Homo sapiens: one gene and its partners. The protein of the gene in region 1 interacts with the protein of each later gene in a biochemical or structural test. Each region holds a gene or a part of one and is shown on either strand. Other genes may lie near its edges. The genes, in order: SMAD3, GSK3B, TGFBR1, WWP2, ITCH, PIN1 and RBL1.

The links.
Region 2: the proteins of SMAD3 (region 1) and GSK3B form a complex in vitro, tested with the Homo sapiens proteins (one study listed by BioGRID).
Region 3: the proteins of SMAD3 (region 1) and TGFBR1 form a complex in vitro, tested with the Homo sapiens proteins (2 studies listed by BioGRID, with this or other methods).
Region 4: of the proteins of SMAD3 (region 1) and WWP2, one has a biochemical effect on the other in vitro, tested with the Homo sapiens proteins (2 studies listed by BioGRID).
Region 5: the proteins of SMAD3 (region 1) and ITCH form a complex in vitro, tested with the Homo sapiens proteins (2 studies listed by BioGRID and IntAct, with this or other methods).
Region 6: the proteins of SMAD3 (region 1) and PIN1 form a complex in vitro, tested with the Homo sapiens proteins (2 studies listed by BioGRID, with this or other methods).
Region 7: the proteins of SMAD3 (region 1) and RBL1 form a complex in vitro, tested with the Homo sapiens proteins (one study listed by BioGRID).

The regions. Positions count from the first base shown.
Region 1 is NC_000015.10:67,159,602-67,163,101, reverse strand, and holds part of SMAD3 (mothers against decapentaplegic homolog 3), read right to left. Parts: intron 1-3,500. UniProt on the Homo sapiens protein: Receptor-regulated SMAD (R-SMAD) that is an intracellular signal transducer and transcriptional modulator activated by TGF-beta (transforming growth factor) and activin type 1 receptor kinases.
Region 2 is NC_000003.12:119,912,621-119,917,043, reverse strand, and holds part of GSK3B (glycogen synthase kinase-3 beta), read left to right. Parts: intron 1-869; coding exon 870-1,000; intron 1,001-4,233; coding exon 4,234-4,340; intron 4,341-4,423. UniProt on the Homo sapiens protein: Constitutively active protein kinase that acts as a negative regulator in the hormonal control of glucose homeostasis, Wnt signaling and regulation of transcription factors and microtubules, by phosphorylating and inactivating glycogen synthase (GYS1 or GYS2), EIF2B, CTNNB1/beta-catenin, APC, AXIN1, DPYSL2/CRMP2, JUN, NFATC1/NFATC, MAPT/TAU and MACF1.
Region 3 is NC_000009.12:99,107,483-99,111,905, forward strand, and holds part of TGFBR1 (TGF-beta receptor type-1 isoform 1 precursor), read left to right. Parts: intron 1-3,326; exon of another isoform or gene 3,327-3,386; intron 3,387-3,844; exon of another isoform or gene 3,845-4,423. UniProt on the Homo sapiens protein: Transmembrane serine/threonine kinase forming with the TGF-beta type II serine/threonine kinase receptor, TGFBR2, the non-promiscuous receptor for the TGF-beta cytokines TGFB1, TGFB2 and TGFB3.
Region 4 is NC_000016.10:69,764,945-69,769,367, forward strand, and holds part of WWP2 (NEDD4-like E3 ubiquitin-protein ligase WWP2), read left to right. Parts: intron 1-4,423. UniProt on the Homo sapiens protein: E3 ubiquitin-protein ligase which accepts ubiquitin from an E2 ubiquitin-conjugating enzyme in the form of a thioester and then directly transfers the ubiquitin to targeted substrates.
Region 5 is NC_000020.11:34,439,345-34,443,767, reverse strand, and holds part of ITCH (E3 ubiquitin-protein ligase Itchy homolog), read right to left. Parts: intron 3,614-4,423; coding exon 3,424-3,613; intron 1,561-3,423; coding exon 1,465-1,560; intron 1-1,464. UniProt on the Homo sapiens protein: Acts as an Acts as an E3 ubiquitin-protein ligase which accepts ubiquitin from an E2 ubiquitin-conjugating enzyme in the form of a thioester and then directly transfers the ubiquitin to targeted substrates.
Region 6 is NC_000019.10:9,837,761-9,842,183, forward strand, and holds part of PIN1 (peptidyl-prolyl cis-trans isomerase NIMA-interacting 1), read left to right. Parts: intron 1-251; coding exon of another isoform or gene 252-315; intron 316-675; coding exon 676-888; intron 889-4,423. UniProt on the Homo sapiens protein: Peptidyl-prolyl cis/trans isomerase (PPIase) that binds to and isomerizes specific phosphorylated Ser/Thr-Pro (pSer/Thr-Pro) motifs.
Region 7 is NC_000020.11:37,085,704-37,090,126, reverse strand, and holds part of RBL1 (retinoblastoma-like protein 1), read left to right. Parts: intron 1-1,004; coding exon 1,005-1,138; intron 1,139-4,423. UniProt on the Homo sapiens protein: Key regulator of entry into cell division. Directly involved in heterochromatin formation by maintaining overall chromatin structure and, in particular, that of constitutive heterochromatin by stabilizing histone methylation.

The DNA of each region.
Region 1 (3,500 bases):
CTCAGGAGGCTGAGGCAGGAGAATCACTTGAACCTGGGAGGGGGAGGTTGCAGTGAGCCAAGATTGTGCCACTGCACTCCAGCCTGGGCGACAGAGCAAGACTCCGTTTCAAATCATCATCATCATCATCATCATCATCATCATCATCATCATCACAGAAACCTACAATTACACACAATGAAAGTGTCCTGAACGAAAATAACAAGGAACCCCAAGAGTGTATGACCATGGCACCCCACTTTGCTGAAGGACTGGACAGGGCATCTCAGAGGAGGTGATGGTTGACCTGAAGGCCTAAAGGGTAAGTAAGAACTAACCAGGCAAAGGGGTGCGGGAGAAGGGCAGTACAAGCAGAGGGAAAGGCACACACAAAGGCCCTGTGGAAAGTGGAAAACATGGTGAGGTCGGAAGAACAGAATGAAGGCCAGAAGGACTGGAGAGGGGATCATGAGAGAGAGCTGGCTTGAGACGAGGCCGGGGAGGCAGGCAGGGGTACTCTGCAGGGCCCCAAAGGCCATGATAAAGGCTTCTCCTGTTTTCTAAAAGCAGTATGTAGCCTCTGAGATGTGTAAGTGGGCTGTGCATACGTGTGAAAGAGACAGGCCCTGTGGAACTCTGGCTACGTGTGACCAACAGATTGCGGGTAGCAGGGATAGAAGTGGGGAGCAGATGAGATGGATGCTCATGAGTCACAGGTACCCTATTAAGAGGCAGGACTGCTTTTTCTTCAAGGAGGCCCATCCTAGGACCCTGCCAGTCAGTGCCATAATTTTTCTAATAGCTGGCAGGGCTGGCAGTGAGACATTTGCAAGCTTTCCCTCTGTGCCTTCTTATGACCGAGGGCACCCATTTGCCTGAATACAGAGAATTCATGGGCACTCTGTGAAGGAAGGGCTGGCCAGATGCCACCAACAGCACCAACCAAAGAGAGAAACAGAGGGATCCAATCACACTCTCCAAGCCACTGGCCTGGGAAGGGGAAAGGACAGACAAAGGTCATAGCTGGGCTTGGTCACAGGAACTGACCTGGAGCTGCTGACTAAGGGCATCTTGAAGGATGTAATTACCTTCCTCCCTTGGGGCCCCAGAACAAGGAAGCCCTACAGCTGAAAAACAGTAATTACCAGGCAGATCGAGAAGACAGCCTGGGACTCGTCCCTGAGGTATAAAAGGAGGACTGGCGGATGTGGAGCCATAAGACCTGGGGTAAAGGAGGGTTCTACTCTCCTAGCTGGGAGACACTGGGCAGCTCATGAGCTTCCTAGGACACTCAGTTTTCTCATCTATAAAATGGGGTATTCTGCCCCCCGACCTCCTGAAGCTTGGTTTCCATTTGAAAGTGCTTCATAAACACCCACAAATTAGCGTTATTATTCTCTATCACAGCAGATACTCCCCAAACCCAGCCCTGGATAAGTAGGGTGAGCTGGAGGTTGAACAGGAGTAAAAGGGAGAGTGGGAAGTGGTGAGTGGGAATAGAGAATTATTCAGCTGTTCTCCTTCTCCTGCAAAGCCACTGGGTGCCCACAGATTAGGGAAGTGGCCGTATTTGCTCTTCGGTGTTTGACAAAACTCCCAAAAAAGGGCCAGCTGGACATCATAGCCTCCTCTGCAAGAGAAGGCCTTGGAGAAAAGCTCATGCCAGCAGCGGGGGAGAATGGGGCTGTGGAGGTAAGCTCCATCTAGGTGATAGAAGTGGGTGGCCCTCTTGCCTTAGTAGTAATATTAATCATACATGAATCACTTGGATATTAATTAAACTTTTAAAAACAAGGGAGCTACAATAATCAAGGCAGTATGGTAATGGCACAAGGACTGACAAACGGATCAATGGAACCTAACAGAGTCCAGAAATAGTTACATATATATGGACGACTGGCTTCAACAAAGGTCCAAAGACAATTTAGTGGAGCAAGGACAGTCTTCAACAAATGGTGATGTAACAACTGGATATGTAAAAAAGATAATCTTCAAACTACACATTGTAACCCTATACAAAAACAAACTGAAGTGAAACTTAAACTCTAAAATGTCTAGAAGAAAACAGGAGAAAATCTTTGTGACTTTTTGGGATAGACAATGATTTCTCAGATACCACACCAAAAAGCACTTAATAATAATAAAAAAAAAATCAGACCGCATCAAGATTTAAGCCTCTGGTCTTTGAAAGACACTGTTAAAGGAATAAAAAGGCAAGCACTAACTAAGAGAAAATATTTGCAAAGCGTATATTTGATAATAGACCTGTTTCTAGAACTCTGAAAACTCAATATTAACAATTCAATCTTCTTTTTTTTTTTTTTTTTTTTTTTTTTTTTTTTTTTTTTTTTTGAGATGGAGTCTCGCTCTGTCGCCCAGGCTGGAGTGCAGTGGCACAACCTTGGCTTACTGCAAGCTCCACCTCCTGGGGTCACGCCATTCTCCTGCCTCAGCCTCCCGAGCAACTGGGACTACAGGCGCCTGGCACCGCGCCCGGCTAATTTTTCGTATTTTTAGTAGAGACGGGGTTTCATGTGTTAACCAGGATGGTCTCGAACTCCTGACCTCGTGATCCGCCTGCCTCGGCCTCCCAAAGTACTGGGATTACAGGCGTGAGCCACTGCGCCCAGCCAACAATTCAATCTTTTAAAAAAGAGATACATGATTTGAACAGACACTACCCAGAAAGATATGAAGACAACAAGCATATGAAAAGATGCTTGACAATGTTGATCATTAGAGAAGCACAAATTAAAACTACAATGAGATAGGACTACATACTTATTAGAATGGCTACAATTAAAAAGCCTGATCATGCCATGTATTGGCAAGGATGTGGAACAACTGGAACTCCCTTCCACTGCTGGTGCAAATGTAAAATGGTACAACTATTTTGGAAAACAGCTTGGAAGTTCCTTTCTAAAATATTTTATTTTGGGGGATACACAGTAGCTATACATATTTATAGGGTACTTGCGATATTTTGATACAAGCATACAATGTGTAATGATCAAATCTGGGTAATTGGGATATTCATCCCTCAAACATTTGGAAGTTTCTTAAAAAGCTAAAAAACCATAAGCCTACCATATGATCCACCATTCCACTTCAAAGTATTTACCCAAGAGAAATAAAAGCCTATGTCCAAAGACTTGTGCATGAATGTAATAGCCCCAAATTGAAAACTACTCCACATGTATTAACAGATGAATGAGCCATAACATATCCATACAAAGAAATACAACTCAGTAACAAAAAAGGATCAACTACTGATACATGCAACGCTATGAATGAATCTAAATTAATGATGCTGCGTGAAAGAAGCCAGGCATGATTCTGTTCGTGTAAAATTATAAGGTAATTTAAACTAAAGTAAAAGGCACACTAATCTTAATCTAGTGACAGAAAGCAGGGATCAGTCATTGCCTGGGGACAGAGGGAGTTACAGGGAGGGAGTAGGGATTGGAGGGAGCAATTACCAAGGTGCACTTGGAAACTTTTTTGGGGGTAAAGGTTATGTA
Region 2 (4,423 bases), on another chromosome or scaffold:
GCCAGAAAAGTTTAAAAGTGAATCAGAACACTGACCTTGAGATAAACAGAAGGTTTAAATTATACTCTCTTCGTCCATGAAGTTTCTCTCTCCTCCAGTCAAGAGTCTGATTCTTTACTCCATGCAGACCCAGTTTCTCAGTGTATCTTTTTGGTAAGAAAACTGAGAAAGTCTTCTCTTTTGAAAGATGATGTCAATAGTCAGGCATCTGTTTTTGAATGTCATTTTGAATTATACTTTTTCTGAAGGATATTAACAGGAAGAATGGTGATGCTACTAACAGGGTTATTGATGTCTTGATAGAGCAGTGATTACAGATTTTCTCAGTCCACATGAGTTTTCCTAGACCACTGTATCAATCACCTTGGAGGCTGACATCTCAGAAGAATATTCTAAAGATCACACTTTGGAAATACGTTTACATTCAGCAGCATGCTCTACTAGAAAGAACTATAAACTTAAAAATCAGGAGACCTGGTTTCTGGCCCAAAGTTACTGATTATTCATGATTTGGGGTGCCTCTCTGAGCTTTTCATTTGTGTTTTAAATAAAAGCCCATCTTAGCAGGCTTGTAATGTGAGATGTTAGTAAAATTAAAAGTTATAAAGCACATTGTAAAATTTTCTTCTTTTGAGTTATTAAAGAATGAAGCGAATAGTACATATGGTTAATGACAGTTTAGCTAATTCATATAGAAATAGCTAATTAATACAGAAGTGACACAAAACTTGTGAAAGGAAGATTGAGTGCCAGTAATCCATAGCATTTCACCTGTTCTTTTCTGAGAATCTGTTACTTTATTGACTGCTTAAGGATTCTGATTTGTTTAGAATAGGAAGTATTTAATTAATTTCTACTATCTATTCCAGTTGTATATGTATCAGCTGTTCCGAAGTTTAGCCTATATCCATTCCTTTGGAATCTGCCATCGGGATATTAAACCGCAGAACCTCTTGTTGGATCCTGATACTGCTGTATTAAAACTCTGTGACTTTGGAAGGTAAGCTACTGTCCCTCTCCCTGCCCCTTCCCTTTTCCCCTCCTCCCCCTACTATCTTCTTTTAAATATATTCCTTTTGCAATATCAGCCTAAACACAGTAATTCTTATTCAAGAAGTATAAACTAGTGCAGCTGTGAGAGTAGTTTTGTTAGTTTCTGTCAAAATTATAAATGTATATACTCCTTCATTTAACAGTTTAACTTTTAGGAATTATTTCCTTAGGAATACATATTTACAATACAGTGTATATATAGGGATTTTTATTATAGCATTGTTTATAAGCATCCATTAGTAGGAAAATGGCTAAATAAATTACGGTACATGCAGAGTAATACATGCAACCATGAAAAAGAATGAGGCAACTCTCTGTGAACTGAAAGGGAATGATGTCTAGGAAACATTAAATGAAGAAAGCAAGATCAAGAGTATATGTATTGTATGCCACCTTTTATGTTTTAAAAACATACAGAATGTGACTATATATATATATATGTACACACACACATATATACACAAGTACATGTGTGGCTTATTTCTGAAATGGTACGTAATCCATAATATTTGATTGCCTGAGAAAGGATCTTTGGGAATATAATGTAGTTGGGAAACTCACTTTTTCATTGATTGTATTTTAGTATTGTTTGAATTTACATTAGGTATATATACTCCTTTTTCAGTAAGAACTAAATTTTTTCAAAATATTGATTATTATACATTCCTGTGTATCTTTTTAACTTCACAATTAACCTCAATTCAGGGATGAGATAAAAAACAATGCAGTGTTTTCTTCATTTTCCTCTATAATTTAACCTTTTATTCCACCCTTTTTCCTGCAAATTTCATCAAACTTTCTGCTTTTAAAAGCTCATTTCTTGGTAATATACTGTGAATTTGTAATACAACTTTATTCTTTCCATTTTCAGTTTTCAGTACTTTGTGCCTCTCTGATCTAACCTTTTAACATGTAGTCAAGCCTACATTCCCATGTAACTCAGGCAGTTACCCCGCTACTTCCTCACTGGTGTAATCACCTAATCTCTCTCCTCATGGTCCCTAAGACATCTTTACATAATTTGGATTCTCTCCAATTTAATTTTTTCACCCTTGTTACAGATTCTTTTCACCATAGCTCTATAGATAACATATTGCCCCACACTTGTTAATACCTGTGTTCCTATCCCTTTGTAATACTTTTACATCAATTCACAGTTTAAATTTGGGGTTTAACATAGGATATGTTTTCCACAGGCTTCTCTTGAGACAGATCCTTTAAAAAATAAGTAAATCTGTTCTGTCATGAGTTAATTTTTCTTAGTCTCACAATGTGTCCTCTTTCAGACTGTCCTCATTTTACTGTTTTCTAATTTCAGATGACCTATCACTTTGCAGGCCATGACTCTGTTCCCTGAACTATTTTTAAAAAGGGTGAAAGATAGTAAAACTCTTACCTGGTGTTTGAAACAAAGCACTACTACTTGTCTATAGGAAAAACTGCCCAAATCAGATATGTTTTATTGTTAATGGGGTGTCTTCACCATTGAGAGTGACTGACTTGGTAGGGACAGACTGAGACACCAAGGTTAGAAGAGCTTCTGTTCTCATATAGTGTCAAAACACTTGGTACAGCCCATTCTCTTGGGACATAAAATAGCTTTATTCTGATAAATTTGGAAGAGGGATTTCGCTTGTTTGATAGCTCATTTTTATAAACCCTCTGATTTTTTTGTTTTTAACAAAATTGGTTTGGTCAGATGGAGTTTGGGAAACACTTTGGACTGTACATTATCAGATTGGTAATTTGAACAAAATACTATTACTTTCTTCTTATTTTTTTACTAGATGAAAAGGGGCCAAAAAGTAGCTAAAGAACTAGTTGGGCTATTTAGGAACAAAAAGCTAGATGTGATCACAATATTGGGAAGTAGTTAAAACCAGTCTCCTCTGTAAGAGAGGCTGCTCCGTTTTTGTAGCTCCATCAGGTAGTGAAAAAACTTCAGGCTACAAAGCTTGGGTATTAACGTTTTGTCTCGTAATGAATTTTCTGAACATAATTAGCATCTATCTTGTTAATTAAAAAGCATCCTTTAGAAGATATAACAGTCTCCTATCAATTATGCTGAAAACTAAATGTCATAATTTTCATGCAGCCTAAAAACAGGGATTAGTATTTATTAATTTATGAAATGGTTATTGTATGTCAGTACTTGGGGAGAGGGTTAAAAAACAAACTTCAAAACTAGTGATGAAGGAAAAAGAAGTTAAGGTTAGAGTCATCATTGACTAGAAATAAATGGAAGAAAAGAAATCCCAGTCATTGAAATCCTTGTGACTACTTTCATCTGTCTTTACCCTGGTTTTCCAGTACCTTTACTTTTTTTTTTTGGCACTTACTGTTTTACTGTTTTGATTTTGTTGCATTTTGTCCCTTTATTTATCTTTATTATTAATGTATGTCAGAATGGCTGGCTTCTACAGCAGTTTATTTTATTCTGTCTTTGGATTATCTTGGGCGACATCTCAAAAGAAATTAATTGTAATTTATTATACTTCATATTTAAAATACATGCAATGAAGTATTTTAGTAGGAAAATTGGAATAAGAAAACATGCAATTATACTTACTATAGCAGAGTTAGAATTTATAGGCAGTGAATCATTTCTGCCCTGAAGTTGAAGGGCCTGTTTATAATTTATTGGGTAATAAATGTTTATGTGGTTAATAAATTGACCAAGATATGGAAAAATAGATTGAGTCTATAAGCCTTGAAATATTCGCCGTGAGTCAGAAGTCAAAATGCAAGACAGTGGCCAGTTTCTCACCCTTTTTAAAGAAATACATTGGGTGAGGAGTATTCATTCTTAGAATCCATTGTCATGCTTTTTGGTGGGGGAGGTACCTCTTTTCTGCCCTTGCTTCTTTGTATTTTAGAGGTGGAATTTGGGGAACAGAGGATCAGAAGAAATTCAACACTTATCCTTTTTTGCTTTTGGTGCCTTCTTAGGTGACAAACGCTTTCTTTAAAAATTGCTATTCTTTTTTGCAGAGCAAGGTGATAAAATTGTAAATTTCTTTTATTAGAGATAGTTACAGTTTACATTTTCTTTTTCATATATGATTCAAATGATGTGAATCTTATAAAATCATTTGATACTGTGAAAGGATAGCAGTCTAAGTTCTTTAAGGTTTAGATTTAAAGAATTTCTGCTTTTTATTTTTATTTTTTTTCTGTTAGTGCAAAGCAGCTGGTCCGAGGAGAACCCAATGTTTCGTATATCTGTTCTCGGTACTATAGGGCACCAGAGTTGATCTTTGGAGCCACTGATTATACCTCTAGTATAGGTAAGTACAAATCTGAATATAATGCTCATAATTATTAATTGCTTCTTGATTTTGGTAATTTAGTACTACTAATCTGTACTTTT
Region 3 (4,423 bases), on another chromosome or scaffold:
TCATAACTTTTTTTCTTTGAAAACGTGCCCCCAATCCAACTCTTCTATGAATGCCTCTTGAATGTCTCCTCCTTTCTTGGTATGCAGCCTTCAGCTTAATCCTGCCTGTTATCCTCCAAATCTAGTTGCTTTCCCATGTTTTTCTCATCTAGGCTTTTCTATGGCTACTGCCAAACTAATCTTCCTCAGCCTTCCCCGTGAAGGTTTATAAGATTTCCCATTTGTATTCAGCACTTAGAACAACACTTAGCAGCTTATGATTGGGGCCATCTCTGAGTATCCTACCAGGGATCTCATTTCTCATTACTGCAGACCTTCGAGCAATTTCTCTTTCTCACTGACTCCTGACTGTTCAGCCTTTTCACTACACATTTAGTTTTGCCCCTTTTTTTGGGAGTGCGAGAAGTTCTCAGCCCTGACTTCCTGTGCTGGTTTAGTTCTTGAATTCTTTGTCTTCCAGAACTCTGCAACACTTAACAGTTTGTGTTGTCCATTTCTACTGCCTGTGCTGCTACTTAACTCTACTTGAATGCGTTATAGGTACCCAGAGGACAAGATTCATGCCATTTCTTTCTTTTGTGGCCTCAGAACTTAGCACTGTGTTTTATATTCTATTCCACATAAATGCTTGTTGATTTCTATTTGAGCATTCCTTTAATATTTATACTGTTTTATGTAAGTCCAGTTTATGCAATATTAACTTGTAATTCCGTATAAATAATCAGGAAAAGTTGTATGGCGTGTTGAAAGCAATTGGTTATTTGTCCTACCTTCACCAGCAGTTATGCAGAAAATGGGGCAATACCTACTTTTGCCTAATTCATGAGATTGTGAAGATCACATGAGAAAGTGGTATTTGAGTTTGAGGTTGCTATTCTGTGTTGTTGCTAAAGAGCAGGACTGATGTTCAATAAGCAGTTCCCACTGGGCCATGTGTGTTTTGGTTAAACATCCTTTCTGATTGGTTGGTACCCTTGTAGTGCCAGTTGTTAAATATTTTTAATATCATTTCTATAGGGAGGCATTAGTATTCAAAAAGGGAAATGATTAGTGTAAGCTGGAATGATTGGGGGAGGCTTCTTGGACACTTTAGGACTTACACTGACTTTGAAGGGTGGGTAGAATTCAGAGGGGGATTTGATGAGTGTGAAAGTTCTTTTGAAGTTGTGTCCCCAACTGTCCTGGGGCCTACTCCAAGGGAGGAAACAAGGCTTTTACTGACTGACTGGCAAGTTACTCTTCAGAGTTAGGTTCCTTATTCTGTACTGTGGAATTTGGATGTATTAACCTCTATCATTTTTTCCCCAATCCTAAAAGCTATAGTACATAGCTGGAAACAAAACATAAAAGTAATCAAAGTGGAATGAGTGAGGGAGAATAACATTATGGGATGCCCAGTAGGACTAGGCATTCAAATGGTGGAAGTCCTAAGTATATTATCACTTCAATTTACAGATGAAAAAACGACTCAGGTGAATTTCTTAGGGTGGCACAGGGGCAGAACAGAGACAGGAACTTTGATTTTCTGATTCCATATCTTGTGCCCTATATGGTGCTTTAAAATGTGAAGGACTTGGAGGTGGGAGTGGGACAGGGTTGGGATAGGTGGTTGGCATCCACGAAGGGATGAGTGACTTCCTTAAGTGAAGTAGGCCTTGAACTTCACAGAATTTATGAAAAGTGAATTCTAAAGGTGGAAGGGAGGGGGAATGATTAAAGCCTTAAAGTTCTCAAGGAAAAGGTCAATTTTTTTTTAATTGCTGATAAAAGGACCTGGTATATACTTATTGATTGAGAAAAGTAGGCCTATAGTAGTTTGGAAGATGGTCTTGAGTAAGTACAGTTAATTGAATTGGGGTGTAGTTAGAAGGCTTTGGTTTAGAATATTAGATGATCCGCTTTGTTGTTGAAATTAAGAGAGGAATTGACATAAAAATAATCAAGAGGAAGATAAATCTTGTTCCTGTGAGGAGGGCCGCTCATGTAGGGAAGACCCCTGTCAAAAGGTTCTAGGCCTTAGTTGAGCAGTTACAGGGACTCAACACCATTCTTGTAGTGTCATTTTATTGCACCAAATATGTTCATGTGTAATAAATGGAATTTTGAAAATGCCATTATCCTATGGATGGCCCTTCTGATGTGAGAACGTGTCTCTTCAAACCACAGAGCCCCTTGCAAATGTCGACACACCTCTTGCCTTTTGCAGTTCTTCCTTGGTCATGGCTTACGTAACACAGAGTTCTCTGAACAGATGGACTGTGGTTTGATATCATGTGATTGGGTCACATCTTTGCTTCCTGCTTTTGGAATTGAGGGCAGATGCTGGCATATTTCTCAGGGATTTTTTAATGCTTTGTCCCATAGAACTAGCTTGAGGAAAAGTTTTGGAGTCTTCTCAGAATTTATGGTCAGTTTTGACCCAGCCTAACTCCAATACTTAGGATTACATTTAATGCCATTCTTAGCTGAATTTTCTCAATGTCAAATCCAGGCAGTCTCCATAAACATTAAAATTGTTTACCACTCTGAATTAGATCCAATTTTATGTGTTTTGTTTGCTTTCCAGGTAAGTTTCTTATGGCTACCCTTCTTCATCATGAAGAAAATTGGTTGGTAGACTTGTAATTATTCATCTCAGACATCACTTTCTTAAATACTAGTGGACTAAGTTCAGTTGGTTTTATGGTCCAATTTTATAGATCAGATCAAGTCTTTTATAAAGCTGCTCCCTCAAAGAACAATTTCTAATCTAACTTAAAAAAAATTGACTTGCAAAGTATACACACAGGTTGCTTTGAAATTTCTTGAAGGGTTGCAAGAATATGCTACATATTCTATCTGTCTTGTCTCGTTTAATTCTCTCTTCTCTCTTTTTTTTTCTTTGACCATGGCTAATACGGCATCATTTAGTTCTCATAACCAACCTTGAATGGTAGTTGTATAGAGTACCAAAACTTCTTACTTATTTGCTGCTTAATTTCCAAACTCTTAAGCCCATTTGTTCCCAGATACAGGTGACCAGTGCTCAGAAGATAACTGTAGGTTTTGATAACATCGGCTCTACCCCAAGATTCTTTTCAACTCTAAACATTATCCAAAGGTGTTAGTATTTTTTCATCGTCTAATCGTAAATATATATATAAAAGAAAGACACTGCTTTGAATGGCACAGATGTAGACTAACAGTAGTTCAGCCACTGAGACTCAAATGATTTTGTATTACCATAAACCCCATCTGCCTGGGCAGGCAGAATTGACACAATTTTGCTCAGATTGGAACCTAGTTCATATCTATGAAAGAAGACCCTCTTTGTTTCCATTTTATAGACCAGGAAACTGAAGTTATGCTGTTAATGAAAGGTGGAGCCTTCAGTTAAGCACTCCAGGGTATGTACTCTTTTCCTATACAAATGCTCCTCTACTTATGATGGGGTCACGTACGTCCATGCTCCTTTCATATAGAGTAAATACATTGTTAGAGCCACTTCAGCAGGAAAGTTTCCTTTCCCTTTTTTGCAAACCATGAGAATTTGCTTCAGATTGCCTTGATTACAGTTTTACTATTTCTTTGCAACTGCAGGCCATTCAGATACTAACAGTCTTTCTTTAACATTATATTTTTAGGTAATTTGAATCTTCCTGACGAGTCCAGTGATAGTTGATCACTTACTATTTGTATTGATTTATACATATATTCATAGCAAATTCTTTTCTTCTAAAAGTTACATAAGCACAGGACTGAAAATTTGTATTAGAGAAAGGAAAAAAACCATCACCAGCCATTATTAACATTTGGCATATCCTGCACCCATGCTTTTTTTTTTTTTTTTTTTTTTTTTTTTTTGAGTATAAAAAACCATTCTTGGGCTGGGCACAGTAGCTCACACCTGTAATCCCAGCACTTTGGGAGGCCGAAGTGGGCGAATCACGAGGTCAGGAGTTCGAGACCAGCCTGGCCAACATGATGAAACCCTGTCTCTACTAAAAATAACAAAAAATTAGCTGGACGTAGTGGCAGGCACCTGTAATCCCAGCTGCTTGGGAGGCTGAGGCAGGAGAATCACTTGAACTCAGGAGGTGGAGTTTGCAGTGAGCCGAGATTGCGCCACTGCACTCCAGCCCGGGCGACAGAGTGAAACTCCATCTCAACAAAAACAAACAAACAAAAAAACAGCAACAAACCATTCTTTAATCATTCTATTTCAGCAGTTTATGAAAGCTAATAAAAGTGTTTAAATTGACAAACAGCTTCAGTTTACAGAGGAAAGAGCTTCAGTTTACAGAGGAAATAGCTCATCTATTCTTAGCAAATATTTAGTAGTGATCAACATGATGAGAAATATAGGAAAAGTAAGAGGCAGTCTTGCTTTTGAAAAAATTGATGCTGAGGAAATATGACTACAGACTCAGTACTAGCAACCACA
Region 4 (4,423 bases), on another chromosome or scaffold:
TATAATTCCAGCACTTTGGGAGGTCAAGGTGGATAGATTGCTTGAGCCCAGGAATTTGGGACCAGCCTGGGCAACATGGTGAAACCCTGTCTCTACAAAAAATACAAAAATTAGCCAGGTGCAGTGGCGCCCGCCTGGCTACTCAGGAGGCTGAGGTGGGAGGATCACCCAAGCCTGGGGAGGTGGAGGCTGCAGTGAGTTGTGATCGTGCCACTCATTGCACTCTAGCCTAGGTGACAGAGTGAGACCCTGTCTCAAAAAAAAGAAAAAGAAAAAGAAAAAAAGTTTCACCTTTTTGTCTTTTTTTTTCCCACTTAACCTTGACTTGAAACCCAGCACTTTTTTCTTTTTAAAATGTATTTCCTAGAAAAATAAAAAATTATAAATGTGGCTTGCACTTGTGGCTCCCATCTTATTTCTATTGGACAAACCTGTTCTGAATGCCAGGAATATAGCAGTACAAGAAAGGTAAGGATCCCCACCCTTGTGGATCTTCAATTTTATTAGAGAAGGGCACATTGATAACTAAGTATAATATGTATTATGTTGTAATAAAGCAGGGAAGAGGGATGTAGGTTGCAGTTTAAATAGGATCCTGGCCAGGTGCGGTGGCTCACGCCTGTAATTCCAGAACTTTTGGAGGCTGAGACGGGCGGATCACTTGAGGTCAGGATTTCAAGACCAGCCTGACCAACATGGTGAAACCCCATCTCTACCCAAAATACAAAAATTAGCTGGGCTTGTTGGCACATGTGTCTAATTCCAGCTACTCGGGAGGCTGAGGCACGAGAATTGCTTGAGCTCGGGAGATGGAGGTTGCAGTGAACCAAGATCGCGCCACTGCACTCCAGCCTAGGTGATGAAGTGAGACTCCGTCTTGCTTTTGGAGAGATGGGGAGTTGGGGGCGGGGGTTCTCACTTTTGCCCAGGCTGGTCTTGAACACTTGGCCTCAAGACATCCTCCTGCCTCAGCCTCCGAAAGTGCTGAGATTACAGGCATGAACCATTGCACCTGGCTCAGTCTCTTAACTCTAAATACTATCCACATGCTAACAGCTTCCATATGTGTGTCTAGCCTAGGCCTGTCTCGAGACTTCTAGATCTAATTGCCCACAATATCTTCACGTGGATTCCTATCAGGCATTTTATAATCAACATCAACAAAATTGAGCCCTACACCTGCCCCTCAGACAGCCTTCCCCATCTCAGTTAATGACAACTCCATTCCTCCAGTTGTTCAAGCCAAAGACCTTGGAGTCACCCTTGACTCGTCTCTTCCTCTCACACCCCACATCCAACTCAGCTCGTCCACAAAGCCTACTGGCTGTACTTCAGAGTACACCCTGGATGCATCTTTCCCCTGGATGATGGCAACAGCCTCCTAACTTGTCTCCCTCTTCCACCCTGGCTGGCCTTCACTTTCTCCACACAGGACCCAGGGCAAGTCTGTTAAAAGGCAGGGTGGATCCTGTCCACTCCACTGCCCAACTCAAACCCTCCAATTGTCCCAGCTTAACTGGAGTGAAAACCAATACCCTACAATGGCCTGCAAGCCTTCCATGACCTGATCTCTCCTCCCACACCCACCACCACCCTGACCTCCTCTCTCCACTCCTGCTTACTCAATCCCCTCCAGCCACACTGGCCTCCTGACTGGTCCCAAAACCTGCCAGTGGTACTCCTTATTTGGGGCTTTTGAACTCTGCCTGGACCCTTAAGCCCCTATTCAGCCACATGGCCCCTTCCTTCCCTCACTTCCTCAGATCTTTACTCAACCATCACCTTCAGAGAGAGGCTTTTCTAGGGATCCTATATTTTACTTTATTATTTTTGGAGTGTTGTTCTGTTGCCCAGGCTGGAGTGCAATGGTACGATCTTGGCTCACTGCAACCTTCACCTCCCAGGTTCAAGTGACTCTCCTGCCTCAGCCTCCTGAGTAGCTGGGATTACAGGCATCTGCCACTATGTCCAACTAATTTTTGTATTTTTAGTAGAGATGGGGTTTCACCAGGTTGGTCAGGCTAGCCTCAAAATCCTGACCTCAAGTGATCTGCCTGCCTCGGCCTCCCAAAGTACTGGAATAGGGGTTTTGTTTTTTTTTTTTTTAATCTTTTTGAAAACCACAAGCTAATGGGTTTCTTTTTTCTTAATGAGGCTACTCTTCCAACTGTGCATCTTTATAGCACCCCTGAAATCAATTTGAGTGCCAATTTCTGGAATTAGTCTGGCTTCCTGGGTTGGCATCCAGTTTAGGCCTCCAGGATGGATGGATAATGGGCTTTTTATGTTTGAAATATGTATTGGTTTTTTCAAACATGTATTGAATGCATGTTGTTTGTCAGGCATCCCACCATTTTATACATTTAACCTTGTTGAGGTGAAGTGACCCTCACGAGGTCAGATAGCTAAGAAATGAAAGAGATGGCCATTTGAATCTTGGTCTTCAGAGTCCACATCTGGTCCTTCTACCACTTATCATTAGTGAGATGGGTGGAGTGGCTATATAAACATAAACTCCCTTTGGAATCAAATCAGTGAGTTGCTTTTGAGCGACTTTGAGTCCCTTAGGACTATTATGTGTCACAGGCAGAAAGGGAATTTACCAGGTAAAGAAAGGCAGATTTATTAAAGTGAAAACACGTTGCAAGAAAGCAATGGGCAGCACAGCAGAGAAGGGGCTGTCTGCAAAGAGGCAGGAGATGGAGGGAAGTTTTACAGGGTTGTGCTGGAGGGGGCTATGTGGGGATTGATGCATCTGAGGGCTGTTTGTGATTAATCATTTCTCAGAACGACTGTCCATGGCTTTCCCCTACCTGAGGCCCCTTCCTCGTTGTTGCTTACTTATCTTATTAGGACTCCACATTATGGACTCTGAAATTTCTTTTCTTTCTTCTTTATTTGTTTTGCTTTTGAGACAAGGTCTCATTCTGTCACCCAGGCTGAAGTACAGTGGCATGATCATGGCTCACTGCAGCCTCAACCTTTTGAGCTCAAGTGATCCTCCCATCTTAGCCTTCCAAGTAGCTGAGACTATAGGCATGTGCCACCATGCCTAGCTAATTTTTAACTTTTTTGTAGAGATGGGGTCCCACTATGTTACTCAGACTGGTCTTGAACTCCGGGCTCAAGTGATCCTCCTGCCTCAGCCTCCCAAAGTGTTTGGGGTTACAGGTGTGAGCCACCACAACTGGCTAGGGCTCTGGAATTTCTGAAAGATGGGAACAAAAGGGAAGATGTTTCCCCTGGATGATGGGACAGGTTAGATTCTAACCAAAATCTTTTTAGAAGGTTGCAGTTCCCTGTTTTTCACCCCACCGCAGTTTATAGCAAATATTCAGTGATTTAAATCATTACTACTAATAATAACTATTAGGAAAATACCAGCCAGGCATGGTGGCTCACACCTATAATCCCAGCACTTTAGGAGGCCGAGGTGGGTAGATCACCTGAAGTCAGGAGTTTAAGACCAGCCTGGCCAACATGGAGAAACCCCGTCTCTACTAAAAATACAAAAAATTAGCTAGGCGTGGTGGCAGACACCTGTAATCCCAGCTACTTGGGAGCCTGAGGCAGGAGAATCGCTTGAACCCAGGAGGCGGAGGTTGCAGTGAGCCGAGATTGCATCACTGCCCTCTAGCCTGGGCAACAAGAGCGAAACTCCTTCTCAAAAATAATTAAATAAATAAAAAATAACAAGTACCAAGACATGGCAGTCCTGACCTAGGGCCCGTCCTCTTCCTCAAGTCACCCATGCCTTTTGCTTCTTGTTTTGTCTTCAGATCTGCTTTCCAGTCAGCCTCTTTTATTCTTAGCCTGTAATTCCACGGGGCTTCCAATAGTGTACCTCCCTGCTCCCTCCCGTTTTCTCTTTTTCCGTGCTTAGTCTTTGTAAGGATGTCATTTGGCAAAGTTGATTCTGTTTGATTGTTTTTCAATATGGGCCTTTGGAGAATGGAAGGTAGTAACTCAATGCTGGACAGAGGAAGGAGGCCAAGAAAGAAGCATTAGTGTTGGAGTAGCATGAGCCTGTGAAGAACAGGAGAATCTTTTGGACAGAGCTTTTCCTTGCATATCTTTCAAGAAATGAGTGCAGGCTGGGCGCAGTGGCTCACGCCTGTAATCCCAGCACTTTGGGAGGCCAAGGCGGGTGGATCATGAGGTCAGGAGATCGAGACCATCCTGGCTAACGTGATGAAACCCATCTCTACTAAAAATACAAAAAACTAGTCAGGCGTGGTGACAGGCACCTGTAATCCCCGCTACTCGGAAGGCTGAGGCAAGAGAATTGCTTGAACCCGGGAGGTGGAGGTTTGCAGTGAGCCGAGATTGCACCACTCACTCCAGCCTGGGTGACAGAGCAAGACTCCATCTCAAAAAAAAAAAAAAAAAAAAAATAGAAGTGGGTGCAAGGTTTATCTCTAGT
Region 5 (4,423 bases), on another chromosome or scaffold:
AGCGCCCATCCTACCTTGTCCCCCCAAAGTGCTAGGATTTCAGGCATCAGCCACTGTGCCCAGCCCCGGCAGCAACTAACAACGTAAAGTTCCTCACCAACACTTGATATTATCTGCTAATTTAATAACTAAAACAGTACCTTTTCAGGGTATATTTCCTTCAGATTACTAACAAGGTTAAGTATTTTTCCATGTTTGTTACTGACTTTCCTCTGGATTAAAAAATATTTTTTCTTCAATTATTTTATATGATTTTTTTTTTTTGACGGAGTCTTGATCTGTCGCCAGGCTGGAGTACAGTGGCACAATCTCAGCTCACTGCACCTCCACCTCCCAGGTTCAAGTCATTCTCCTGCCTCAGCCTCCGGAGTAGCTGGGACTACAGGCGCGCCACAACACCCAGCTAATTTTTGTATTTTTAGTAGAGACGGGGTTTCAACATGTTGGCTAGGATGGTCTCGATCTCTTGACCTCATGATCCCCCCACCTCAGCCTCCCAAGGTGCTGGGATTACAGGCGCGAGCCACCGTGCCTGGACTGTAATGTTAATGTTAATGTTAAAGGCTTAACACCATGTATTAATATATCCTTAACTTCCCCAATTAATTTGAAATGATTTTGCTATTATAGTTTTTTAAATATAATAAGAACTTCATTTTAATATATGACTGGGCTCTAATTCTTATTCATTTAAATAATTACTCTTGAAGAAACTAATACTTAAACTACAGTATTAGTAAACAGGTAAACAGCTTAGACAAGAAAAGTTAAGGAAATTTTTTTTTTTTTTTTGAGACAGAGTCTTGCTCTGTCGCCCAGGCTGGAGTGCAGTGGCGAGATCTCGGCTCACTGCAAGCTCCGCCTCCTGGGTTCATGCCATTCTCCTGCCTCAGCCTCCCAAGTAGCTGGGACTATAGGTGCCCGCCACCATGCCTGGCTTTTTTTTTTTTGTATTTTTAGTAGAAACGGGGTTTCACCACGTTAGCCAGGATGGTCTCAATCTCCTGAGCTCGTGATCCTCCCACCTCGCCCTCCCAAAGTGCTGGGATTACAGGCGTGAGCCACTGCGCCCAGCCCACCTAAGGAATCTTTAGGTCAGAAATGAGTGAAAATAGGGCCAGGCATGATAGCTCACGCCTGTAATCCCAGCACTTTGGGAGGCCAACGCGGGAGGATGGCTTGAGCTCAGGAGTTAAAAACCAGCCTGGGCGACATAGCGAGATGTTGTTTCTATAAAATAAAGAAAAGAAGAAAGAAATATGCGTGAAAACAAAAATTGTTTATCAGGCTCTGAATTAATCAGTTGTCTAGCTCTCTTCTTTTTAATTTGTACTTACCACAAAACAAAGTGGACAGAGAAAGGGCTGACAAGAAAAAGTAAAACAGAAATGTAGGGAAGATTATACAGTTGTAATCCACAATTCTGACTAAATAAAATTATTCTTTTTAAATTTAGATACTTACCCAGGAGGTAGAGGTTCTGGTCTATCCCATGTTGTTCTTTTCTCAACATGATCTACATAGTAAACTCGCCCGTGCTGGTCCACTCTCTGCTCCCAACTTAAATACAAAATTAAAAGGCTGGTAAAATACTTGCATGAGTTACCTGGCTTTTTAATCCTGTCTTTGCATTTCCATTAAATGACCATTATTGAACTAAGGCAAATAAGGACATCAGTTTAGAAAGATGATACAAATACAATTTAGGAATAAAGTGAAGAAATGTAATCTTCAGGCAGTGGCACACAGTGAATTCAATTTCTTCTATGCAAGTATCTGCTCTAGGAGAAAACATATTCCTGAAGAGGCTTGAGGTCCGTCTACCTAGGATACCGAAGTCACTCTCAATCAGGGTATAATCAGGATTTGAGTGGAAAGAAATGGCCAGGCGCAGTGGCTCTCACCTGTAATCCCAACACTTTGGGAGGCTGAGACGGGTGGATTACTTGAGGTCAGGAGTTCAAGACCAGCCTGGCCAACATGGTGAAACCCCGTTTCTACTGAAAATTCAAAAATTAGCTGGGCATGATGGTGGGCACCTGTAGTCCCAACTACTCAGGAGGCTGAGGCAGGAGAATCACTTTAACCTGGGAGGCAGTGGTTGCAGTAAGCCAAGATTGCATCATTGCACTCCAGCCTGGACAATAGAGTGAGACTCCATCTCAAAAAAAAAAAATTAGCTGGGCATGGTGGCAGGTACCTGTAATCCCAGCTACTCAGGATGCTAAGGCAAGAGAATCACTTGAACCCGGAAGACGGAGGTTACAGAGAGCTAAGATCCCACCACTGCACTACAGCTTGGGCAACAGAGCAAGATTTCATCTCAAACAAACAAACAAAAAATAAACAAGAAAAAATTACACCTGAGTATCTTAAAAACAATCTATGAAAATAATCTTAAAATAATCAGGAGAGATTAAAATGGGATTATGAGCACAAATTTTCTCAGTTTTCTGAATTATCTATCACTTTGCTATGATTTTTCTTTTTTCCCCAAGATGGAGTTTTGCTCTTGTTGCCCAGGCTGGAGTGCAGTGGCAAGATCTTGGCTCAATGCAACCTCTGCCTCCCAGGTTCAAGCAATTCTCCTGCCTCAGCCTCCCGAGTAGCTGGGATTACAGGCGCCTGCCACCACACCCAGCTAATTTTTTGTATTTTTAGTAGAGATGGGGTTTCAGCATGTTGGCCAGGCTGGTCTCGAACTCCTGACCTCAGGTGATCAGCCCGCCTCGGCCTCCCAAAATGCTGGTATTACAGGCGTGAGCCACCATGCCCAGCCTATAATGATCTTCTGATGAAAAAAATAGTTTGATATTAAAAAGGGATTTTTTCCCCCTTAAAGAAAAAGGCAATTGGAATTAGGTGATTATTTTATTAATTGGCCTTGGTTAACTTTCAGGGTCCTTTGATGAAAAAATATATTTTTCCACTTTGCCCTGAAGATTTCAAATATGGTGTGTTTTCCTTGTTCATTTTGACTCCAGATCCCCCAAAATCAGTTACAATAACATAAAAACAGTTGGCTGGGTGCTCATGCCTGTAATCCCAGCACTTTCAGAGGTTGAGGTGGTCGGATCACTTGAGGTCAGGAGTTCGAGACCAGCCTGGCCAACATGGTGAAATCCCCTACTAAAAATACAAAAATTAGCCGGGCTTGGTAGTGCACACCTGTAATCCTAGCTACTAGGGAGGCTAAGGCAGGAGAATTACTTGAACCCAGGGGGCGGAGGTCGCAGTGAGCCAAGATCACACCACTGCACTCCAGTCTGGGAGACAGAGCACTCCATCTCAAAAAAAAAAGAAATTAAAAAACAGTCATCAAAACAATGGAGTTTACTGTTGTTTACTGTTATTTTCCTTATTAATAAGTAGGCTTATGAAGAATCCTAAAGACAACATATGTTAATTTAAAAAGTTACTCACCCAGGTGGCAAGGGAGCTTGAGTTACAGGATTTAATGGCCTAGGGCCTGAGCCTCCAGATATAGTAAGAGGAATTATTAATCCAGATGTTGCTCCTTCAGATGTATTTGTATTTGTATTTGTCGGCGGCAGAGAGCCTGTACTAGACCCATCACTTTCAGAAGTGGCAGATGGTGAACCATTGACAGATGCTATAAAAGATTTGGGGAAAATAGGAAAAGAATCTTTCATTTTCTAAAATTCAGGATAGAATTTTAACTGTAAAAAATAAAAGGCAGATGATAAATATAAAACTTAAGATGTAGATGCACAGGTGAAAATTACTTAAAGAAATAAGTAATGGGAAATAACCAACGCTGCCAGTTAATAGGCTTGTTTACTTTTTCGGTCCTGTCTACCCCTATGTCCCATTACTAATCACGAAGCATGTACAGGTTCTCTGATCTTCTGATGTCACTGGAAATAAAAACTTTTAGAATAGGAAATTATTAATATTCCTTGGTATTTTAAGTTCATTTATTAATTTTCCAGCTCCTTAAAACTGCTTTCCTGTGAAACCGTGCAGATTACAGACCAATTTTTGATGTTGGTTATAATATGGAAGGTCTGATAAGAAATAACATTCTTACAGATAGTTAGTAGTCATACATTACACCTTTAAGAAATACTTGTGGACAAAACAATGTCTAGAGGAAGTCACCAAGATTATAATAAAGACATCTTAAAGACTCAGAATATACAATTAATCAAATTATCTATAAAAGGGGAAGATGTGGCTGCAGTGGCTTACGCCCGTAACTCCCACACTTTGGGAGGCCGAGGCAGAAGGATCACTTTCAGCTCAGGAGCTCCAGACCAGCCTGCGCAACATGGCAAAACTCCATCTCTACAAAAAATATAAATATTTAGCCAGGCATTGGTGGCTCATGACTGTGGTACCAGCTACTCGGGAGGCTGAGGCTAGACAATCACTTGAGCCTGGGAAGTAGAGGTGGCAGTGA
Region 6 (4,423 bases), on another chromosome or scaffold:
TAGCTGGGATTACAGGTGCCTGCCACCATGCCGGGCTAATTTTTTATATTTTTAGTAGAGATGGGGTTTCACTGTGTTGGCCAGGCTGGTCTTGAACTCCTGACCTCAGGTGATCCACCCCACCTTGGCCTCCCAAAGTGCTGGGATTACAGGTGAGAGCCACCGTGCTTAGCCCTTTTAAAAATGTTTAAAAATTATTATTTAGTCCTTTCAATGACCCTAAGGTAGGAACTGTTATCTCCATTTTGCAGGTGAGAACACCAAGGCCCAGGGAAGATATATCACATTTGAACCCAGATTCAGATTTGAATCCAGGTGGCCTGGCTGCTGAGTGCATGGTTTGAGTCACTCCCTGTCCCCCAGCTTCCTCTGTTCCATCACTCTGGGTTATTTTCCTCCTTGAAGTTATCAGGGATTGATACTATCCTGTGTTTCATTTGCTTGTTTAGCACCTGTCTGCTCTCACCTAGAATGTTAGCTCTCTAAGGGCAGGGACTGTATCCTGCCACATTGGCCCACGTCTGGAGAGCCTGTGGCACATGGTGGATACACCATGGATTTGTTGAATGAAGGCGCCCCCTGCAAGCCAGGCCCTCACCCTGGCTTCTGGCTGTGGGCCCAGGGGTGTCCTGGGAGCACAACCCTAGCTGAATTCCTGCCTGCCCTCCCCTCCAGGCCGAGTGTACTACTTCAACCACATCACTAACGCCAGCCAGTGGGAGCGGCCCAGCGGCAACAGCAGCAGTGGTGGCAAAAACGGGCAGGGGGAGCCTGCCAGGGTCCGCTGCTCGCACCTGCTGGTGAAGCACAGCCAGTCACGGCGGCCCTCGTCCTGGCGGCAGGAGAAGATCACCCGGACCAAGGAGGAGGCCCTGGAGCTGATCAACGGTGAGCAGGGCGAGGGCAGGGGCTTGGGAGGGGGTCTTCTCCCAGGTGAGCCTTTGTAGAAGTCACATCAGACCCTTCACCCCAGCTTGCTCAGCTGCCAGGCGTGGTGTTGGCCAACACAAAAACGCCAGTGCATGACCTGACCCTGACCTTCACAGCAGCCATTCTCTTTCTTTTCCATCTGGCATTTGAGGGTGAGCCAGGTAGGGGCAGAGGACCCAGCCTGGGGGCTGGCAGACATGGGTTCAGGTAGTAGCTGTGCCTCTGTGAACTCTGTGACCTTTGGGAGGGGACTCGTGTCACCTCCCCTAGACTCAGCTTTCTCTGTAAAATGGGCATCCTCTAAGGACCATTGTGAAGGTTCAAGGGAATAAGGCAATGGATTTTGCACAGTAGGCCCTCAGTCTGTGGGAAGTGTTGTCAATAGTAATATCATCCACTAGGGGCCTGAGTCATAAACATAGGTGGATCCAGAGAGAGCAGTCAGGAAGGTAGTGAGTGCATGCAGGGTGCGGTGGCTCACGCCTGTAATCCCAGCACTTTGGGAGGCCTTGGAGGGCAGATCACCTGAGGTCAGGAGTTCAAGATTAGCCTGGGCAGTATGGTGAAACTCCATCTCTACTAAAAATACAAAGATTAGCCAGATGTGTTGACGCATGCCTGTAATCCCAGCTACTCGGGAGGCTGAGGCAGGGAGGCAGAGGTTGCAGTGAGCCGAGATCGCACCACTCCACTCCAGCCTGGGCAGCAAAGTGAGGCACCATCTCAAAAAAAAAAAAAAAAAAGAGGTAGTGAGTGCCAGTAGATAGTGAGTTAATTCTGACCTAAGGGAGGAAGCTATTCCCTGCTCTGTTCTGTGTTTCCTCTGCAGTCTGGCACCAAGGTGGCAAACTTTAAAGGCCAGATGGTAAATATTTTAGGTTTTGTGGGCCATGCAGTCTCTATCAGCTCTGCTTTGTAACTGGATAGCACTCATAACTAATATGTAAGCAAGCACATGGTCATGGCTGTGTGCCAAGAAAACTTTACTATTTACAAAATCTGGGAGGATTTGGCCTGCAGGCCATCATTTGCAGAGCCCTGTCTAAAGCTGTCCAGTTTGGCTGCCACTCCCACCCTGTGCGGGAGGATCACTTGAGCCCAGGAGTTTGAGACCAGCTTGGGCAACATAGCAAAACCCCGTCTCTAAAAAAATAAAAAAATTAGCTGGACATGGTGGTGCACGCCTGTAGTGTCAGCTACTTAGAAGACTGAGGTGGGAGGATCCTTTGAGCCCAGGAGGCAGAGGTTGTAATGAGCCGAGATCACACTACCGCACTCCAGCCTGGGTGACAGAGCAAGACCCTGTCTCAAAAATAAATAAGATAATATCAAAAATTGGTTTCTCAATTGCACTGGTCATACTTTAGCTGGTGGCTGCCATCTTTGACAGCGGGAATATAAAACATTTACATTCTTGGCCGGGCGCGGTGGCTCACGTCTGTAATTCCAGCACTTTGGGAGGCCAAGGTGGGTGGATCACGAAGTCAGGAGATCGAGACCATCCTGGCTAACACGGTGAAACCCTGTCTTTACTGAAAATCCAAAAAAATTAGTCTGGCATGGTGGCGGGCACCTGTAGTCCCAGCTACTCGGGAGATAGGCAGGAGAATGGCATGAACCCGGGAGGTGGAGCTTGCAGTGAGCTGAGATCGTGCCACTGCACTCCAGCCTCGGCAACAGAGCGAGACTCCGTCTCAAAAAAACAAAAACAAAAACAAAAAAAAACACTTTTCCATTCTTGCAGTAAGTTGTGTCTGATGCCTTTCTCAGAGTCCCCAAACCTGGGCTGTCCCTACTCCAAACAACCCATCTCTCAACCATGCCCAGACAGCCTGGGTTGCTATGCAGCTCTGCCACGTCCTGGCTATGTGCTCTTGAGCAAGTTACTTAACATCTCTGGGCTTCAATCTTTTTCTCCTTCTTCTTTTGAGACAGGGTCTTGCTCTGTCACCCAGGCTGGAGTGCAGTGTTCATAGCTCACTGCAGCCTCAACCTCCTTGGGATCAGGTGATCCTCCCACCTCAGCCTCCCAAGTAGCTGGGACTGCAGGCTCATAACACCACACCTGGCTGATTTTTGTATTTTTAGTAGAGACAGGACTTCACCATGTTGCCTAGGATGGTCTCAAACTCCTGGCCTCAAGTGATCCTTCCACCTCAGCCTCCCGAAGTGTTGGGATGACAAGCATGAACCACCGCCCCCAGCTGTCAGTCTTTTTCATTTATAAAATTAGTATTAGAATAATAAGACCCACTTCACAGGGTAGTTGTGAGGACTCCTGGCTAATACAGTAAAGCGGGAGTAACAGCTCCTGGCATCGGTAAATGTTCTGTCATTGTTAGTGGTCACTGTCATTGCTGTTGTTGGTTGTGGTAGCACAGGGCCCAGCACAGAGTGTACACTCGGTCAGTATTGGCTGTTGTTTTACTCTCTCATCACTTGGTCCAGTTGGCCTGTAGGATGTTATTACATATGCACACCCCCAACATGGCATCTAGGACAGTAAGTGCCACCCGTTAGTCTTATATGTAAGCATGGCAGAGAGAAGCCGAGTTCTTGCACAGAATCTTGAAGGCTGATTGAAGAGCCAGCCTCCTGACCTCTGAGGGCAGGGACTGGATCTCTCTCTTTCCCCTGTATTCCCATCCTGCCACACAAAGCCTGGCCCAGAGTCAGCCCTCACAGCCTTGTTTCATGAGCCAGTAGGAAGCAAGAAGGATTCCTGGCACAGGACGGGGCAGAAGTAAAGGCCTAGGACTAGGATGTAGCCAGAACTCTGGGGAAGGCTTTGCAGGGAGCTAGGGGGTGATGAGACCCTTCACGGGCAGGTCCCAGCCAGGTTGAGGAGGGTCCTTGTCAGGTGAGGAGGTTTGGTTCTTTCCTGGAGGCAGCAGGACATATGTGGCCATGTGGGACCAGGAGAGGAACCCACAGTGCTCTGCTTTCAGCAGAGATCTGTGAAGCTAGAATGTCAAGGGCCAGGGAAGTGGAAGGCCCAGAACCTTCAGGGGTTCTGGTTGCCCCAGAGCAAGAAGAAGAAGTGGAGGGAGAAGCCAGGAGAGAATTGCAAGATGACCCTTCAGGTCCTCCCAGCTCTAGTGGTCTCTGTTCTGAGGCTTCCGGACCCTATAAGAGTGAGCAGGAGGGTGCAGGCATTTGGGGATGGAGCGGCATGAAGTGGGCTCCTGGGGGTCAGCAGAGCAGCCAGGCGCAGGACAGAGCTGCTCCAAGCAATCCTGATGAGAGCTGGCAGAAGGCTGAGGTCGGTGGGGATAGTGAGGAGGGCATGGGTCTGGGTGTGGTGGGCGAGGGTGTCTCGCCCATCTCTGGGTTGGACAGGTGCACCTGGTAAGTAGCCAGGCCCTGAGGCGTCACCGTAGGTACCTGCAGATTCTGGAATGTCAGCAGGAGCCTTGCCTGCCCACCTGGTGGAAGCTGTGGGAGGAATTGGAGCAAGAGGCGGTGTGACTTGAACTTGGGGGCTGGAAGTGGA
Region 7 (4,423 bases), on another chromosome or scaffold:
GGGGTACAGTAAATTATAATTTTTTAAATATATAGAACAGTTAGAACATACAGTATTACAATCTTTTTTGTGTGTGTGACAGAGTGTCCCTGTGTTGCCCAGGCTAGACTGTAGTGGCACGATCTCTACTCACTGCAACCTCTGCCTCCCGAGTTTAAGCTATTCTCCTGCCTCAGCCTCCCAAGTAGGTGGGACTACAGGTGCATGCCACCACACCCAGCTAATTTTTTGCATTTTTAGTAGAGACGGAGTTTTGCCATGTTGGCCAGGCTGGTCTTGAACCCCTGGCCTCAAGTGATTCACCCGCTCCAGCCTCCCAGGCATGAGCCACCGCGCCTGGCAAGTATTATAATCTTAAGTGACCACCATTGTATATGTGGTCCAGTGTTGACCAAGATGTTATGTGGCATATGCCTGTATTAGATTTGGAGTGTAGGTGAAAGAGTTTTTTTCTTTTTTTTTTTTTTAAGAGACAGGATTTAAGAGACAGGATCTCGCTCAGCTGCCTATGTTGGAATGTAGTGGCACAAACATAGCTCACTGCAGTCTTGAACTCCTGAGCTTAAGCGATACTCTTGCCTCAGCCACCCAAGTAGCTGGGACTGCAGGCAAGCACCACCATGCCTGGCTAATTTTTTTATTTTCATTTTTAGAGTCTACGTTGCCCTGGCTAGTCTTAAACTCCTGGCATCAAGTGATACTCGCACCTCAGCCTCCCGAGTTACTGGGATTACAAACATGAGCCACCAAGCCAGGCTTTTATCTTTAGATTAATATTAATTTAGCATGTTATAGTTGTAAAAACACAGAACTAAGAGTAAGGAGTTTTATACCCATTACTGCAACTAACAGCTTTGTGACCTTGGGCAAATATCTTCACTTCTCTGGCCCTTTATCTACATAAGGAAAATTGAGACCAGATAATTCTACATCTCTTGTTTCTAGAATTAAAGCATTTTAACATAATATTATACCTGTTTTGCTGTTTGTCTTTTGCTTGCCAGGGAGAAGTTACACACTGGTTGGCATGTTCATTATATGTTGCATGCCGCAAAAGCATTATTCCCACGGTTGGAAAGGGTATCATGGAAGGCAACTGTGTTTCACTTACCAGAATACTACGTTCAGCTAAATTAAGGTAAACCTCTTTGATGTTTTTAAATGTTATATAAGCTCTAAATTTTGGAATCAGTTTTCTCTTGTTTTGAGATCATTTGACTTCATTTAATTTTTATTTTATTTATTTATTTATTTATTTATTTTTGAGACGCAGTCTCACTGTGCCAGCCAGGCTGGAGTGCAGTGGCACAGTCTTGGCTTACTGCAATCTCTGCCTCCTGGGTTCAAGTGATTCTCATGCCTCAGCCTCCTGAGTATCTGGGATTACAGACACACACCACCAAGCCCGGCTAATTTTTTGTATTTTTTTTTTTTAGTAGAGATGGGGTTTCATCATGTTGGTCAGGCTGTTCTCGAACTCCTGACCTCAAATGATCTACCCACCTCAACCTCCCAAAGTGCTATGGGATTATAGACGTGAGCCACTGTGTGACTTCATTTAATTCTAAGTTATAACATAGATAATCCTTTCCCAATTTTCATATTCTTTCTCTGCCTTTCTCAAATTCTGCTAGAAACCTCTGTGTTGAATCTTTAGCTATACTTTTTAAAATTAATTTTTTAAAATTTGGAAATAATTTTAGGCTTACAGAGAAGTTACAAAAATAAGAAAAGGACAATACCCATATACCCTTGACTCAGAGTCACCTGTTATTGACATTTTATCCCATTTGCTTTCTCATTTGATTTTTCTTTCTTCAATATATAGATCTTTCTCTCTCTCTCTTTTTTTTTTTTTTTTGAGATGGAGTTTTGCTCTTGTTGCCCAGGCTAGAGTGCAGTGGTGCAATCTCAGCTCACCACAACCTCTGCCTCCTGGGTTCAAGCGATTCTCCTGCCTCAGCCTCCCGAGTAGCTGGGATTACAGGCATGTGCCACCACGCCTGGCTAATTTTGTATTTTTAGTAGAGACGGAGTTACTCCATGTTTGGTCAGGCTGGTCTCGAACTCCCGACCTCAGGTGATCCACCCGCCTCAGCCTCCCTAAATGCTGGGATTACAGGCGTGAGCCAGCACTCCCAGCCAGATCTTTCTCTTTTTATCCTCAACCATTTCAGTCTAAGTAGCATACATTTGTAGCCTTTTACCCCAAAATACTTCACTGTGTATTTCTTTAAATAACTACAGTACAGCTACCAACTTCAGCAAAATTAACACTGATAAAATAATTTTATTTAACCTGCTAACTCTGTTCTAGTTTTGTTAGTTGATTCAATAATGTTCTTTATGGCATTTTTTTTCCTGGAAGTACAATTTCTAATTAAGGATCAGGTATTGCATTTGCTTATCATGTCTATTTATTCTTCTGTAATTAGGAACATTTCCACAGCCTTTCTTTTTCTTTTATGACATTACCATTTTTGAAGAATATAATCCACAATCACTTTGTCCCTTTCTTTAATTAAAAAAAATTTTTTTAGAGGCCGAGTCTTGCTGTATTGCCCAGGCCTCGAGTGCAGTGGCACCTTTTTAGCTCACTGCAGCCTCAAACTCCTCAGCTCAAATGATCCTCCTGCTTCAGCCTCCCAAGTAGCTGAGACTACAATCATGTGCCACCATGCCTGACTGATATTTTTAAATCTTTTTATAGAGACAGGGTCTTACTATGTTGCTCAAGCTTGTCTCAAAGTCCTGACCTTAAGTGGTCCTCTTGCCTCAGCCTTTTTTTTTTTTGGGACAGAGTCTCACTCTGTTGCCCAGGTGGAGTGCAGTGGTGCAATCTGGACTCGTTGCAACCTCCGCCTCCCGGGTTCAAGCGATTCTCCTGCCTCAGCCTCCTGAGTAGCTGGGACTACAGGCATGTGCCACCACGCCCAGCTAATTTTTGTATTTTTCGTAGAGATGTGGATTCACCATATTAGCCAGGCTGGTCTCAAACTCCTGACCTTGTGATCCGCCTGCCTCAGCCTCCCAAAGTGCTGGGATTACAGGCGTGAGCCACTGTGCCCACCCTCATCCCCTCTTTTAATAGATGGTTCCCAATTTTGGATTTGTCTCCTATTAACTTTTGATTAGATGCAGGTTAGTCATTCCCTGATGGAAAACTGTATAAGTGATTTTGTCTCCTGAGGATATCACATCTGATGATGGCATGTGTTATCCATCTGCATCTCATTGGTGATGTTAATTTTTGTCATCTGGTCAAGATGTTGTCCTATTTCTCTACTGTATATTAATTTTTTTCACCTTGCAGCTACTCTATGGGTCTCAGATACATCTTTTACTTACTCTAGTATCAAGCATATAGAATTATTTGGCTGGATAGGAAACAAAACAAATTTAGCTATCCAGTTTGGATTCATGCTAATATTCTTTGTTTCTGGGACAAAACTATTTGTGGTCATTGTCTATTTGCTATTCCTGTGTTTCCAGAATAGAAGAGGAGCAAAGTTTAAAGCCCTATTCAGAAATGGCAAATAGGTTTTAGTTGATGCTAAATTTAAATTTTTTTTTATTTTTATTTTTTGAGACGGAGTTTTGCTCTTGTTGCCCCGGCTGGAGTGCAATGGCCTGATCTCAGCCTCCCCAGTAGCTGGGATTACAGGCGCCCGCCACCACGCCTGGCTAATTTTTTATATTTTTAATAGGGAGAGGGTTTCACCATGTTGGCCAGGATGGTTTCAAACTCCTGACCTCAGGTGATCCACCCGCCTCGGCCTCCCTAAGTGCTGGGACTATAGACGTAAGCCACCGTGTCCAGCCTAAAAAAAATGTTTTTAAACAACTTTGGTTCTAAAAATAAAATAAGATGATAAAAATTAAATGAAGATCAATGGGGTTAATTTTTTAATTGAGCAAGACATTATCATTGTTAGTATAAAACAATCTGATCTTTTTCTGTCAATGTTTGTCATTGTTCATATAATTTCAAAAATCTTTGTAATGACAGATTCTGGGGGAACTAAACAAAAAAGAATTATAACAAAACAAATGTAGAGCAGTACATGGCAGGAGAATCACTTGAACCTTGGAGGTGGAGGTTGCAGTGAGCTGAGATAGCGCCACTGCACTCCAGCCTGGGCGACAGAGCAAGACTCCATTTCAAATTAAAAAAACAAGGCTGGGCGCGGTGGCTCACGCCTGTAGTCCCAGCACTTTGGGAGACCAAGCCGGGTGGATCACAAGGTCAGGAGATCGAGACCATCCTGGCTAACACAGTGAAACCTCATCTCTACTAAAAATACAAAAACAAAATTAGCCAGGTGGGCGCCTGTAGTCCCAGCTACTCGAGAGGCTGAGGTGGGAGTATGGCGTGAACCCAGGAGGCGGCGCTTATAGCGAGCCGAGATTGCGCCATTGCACT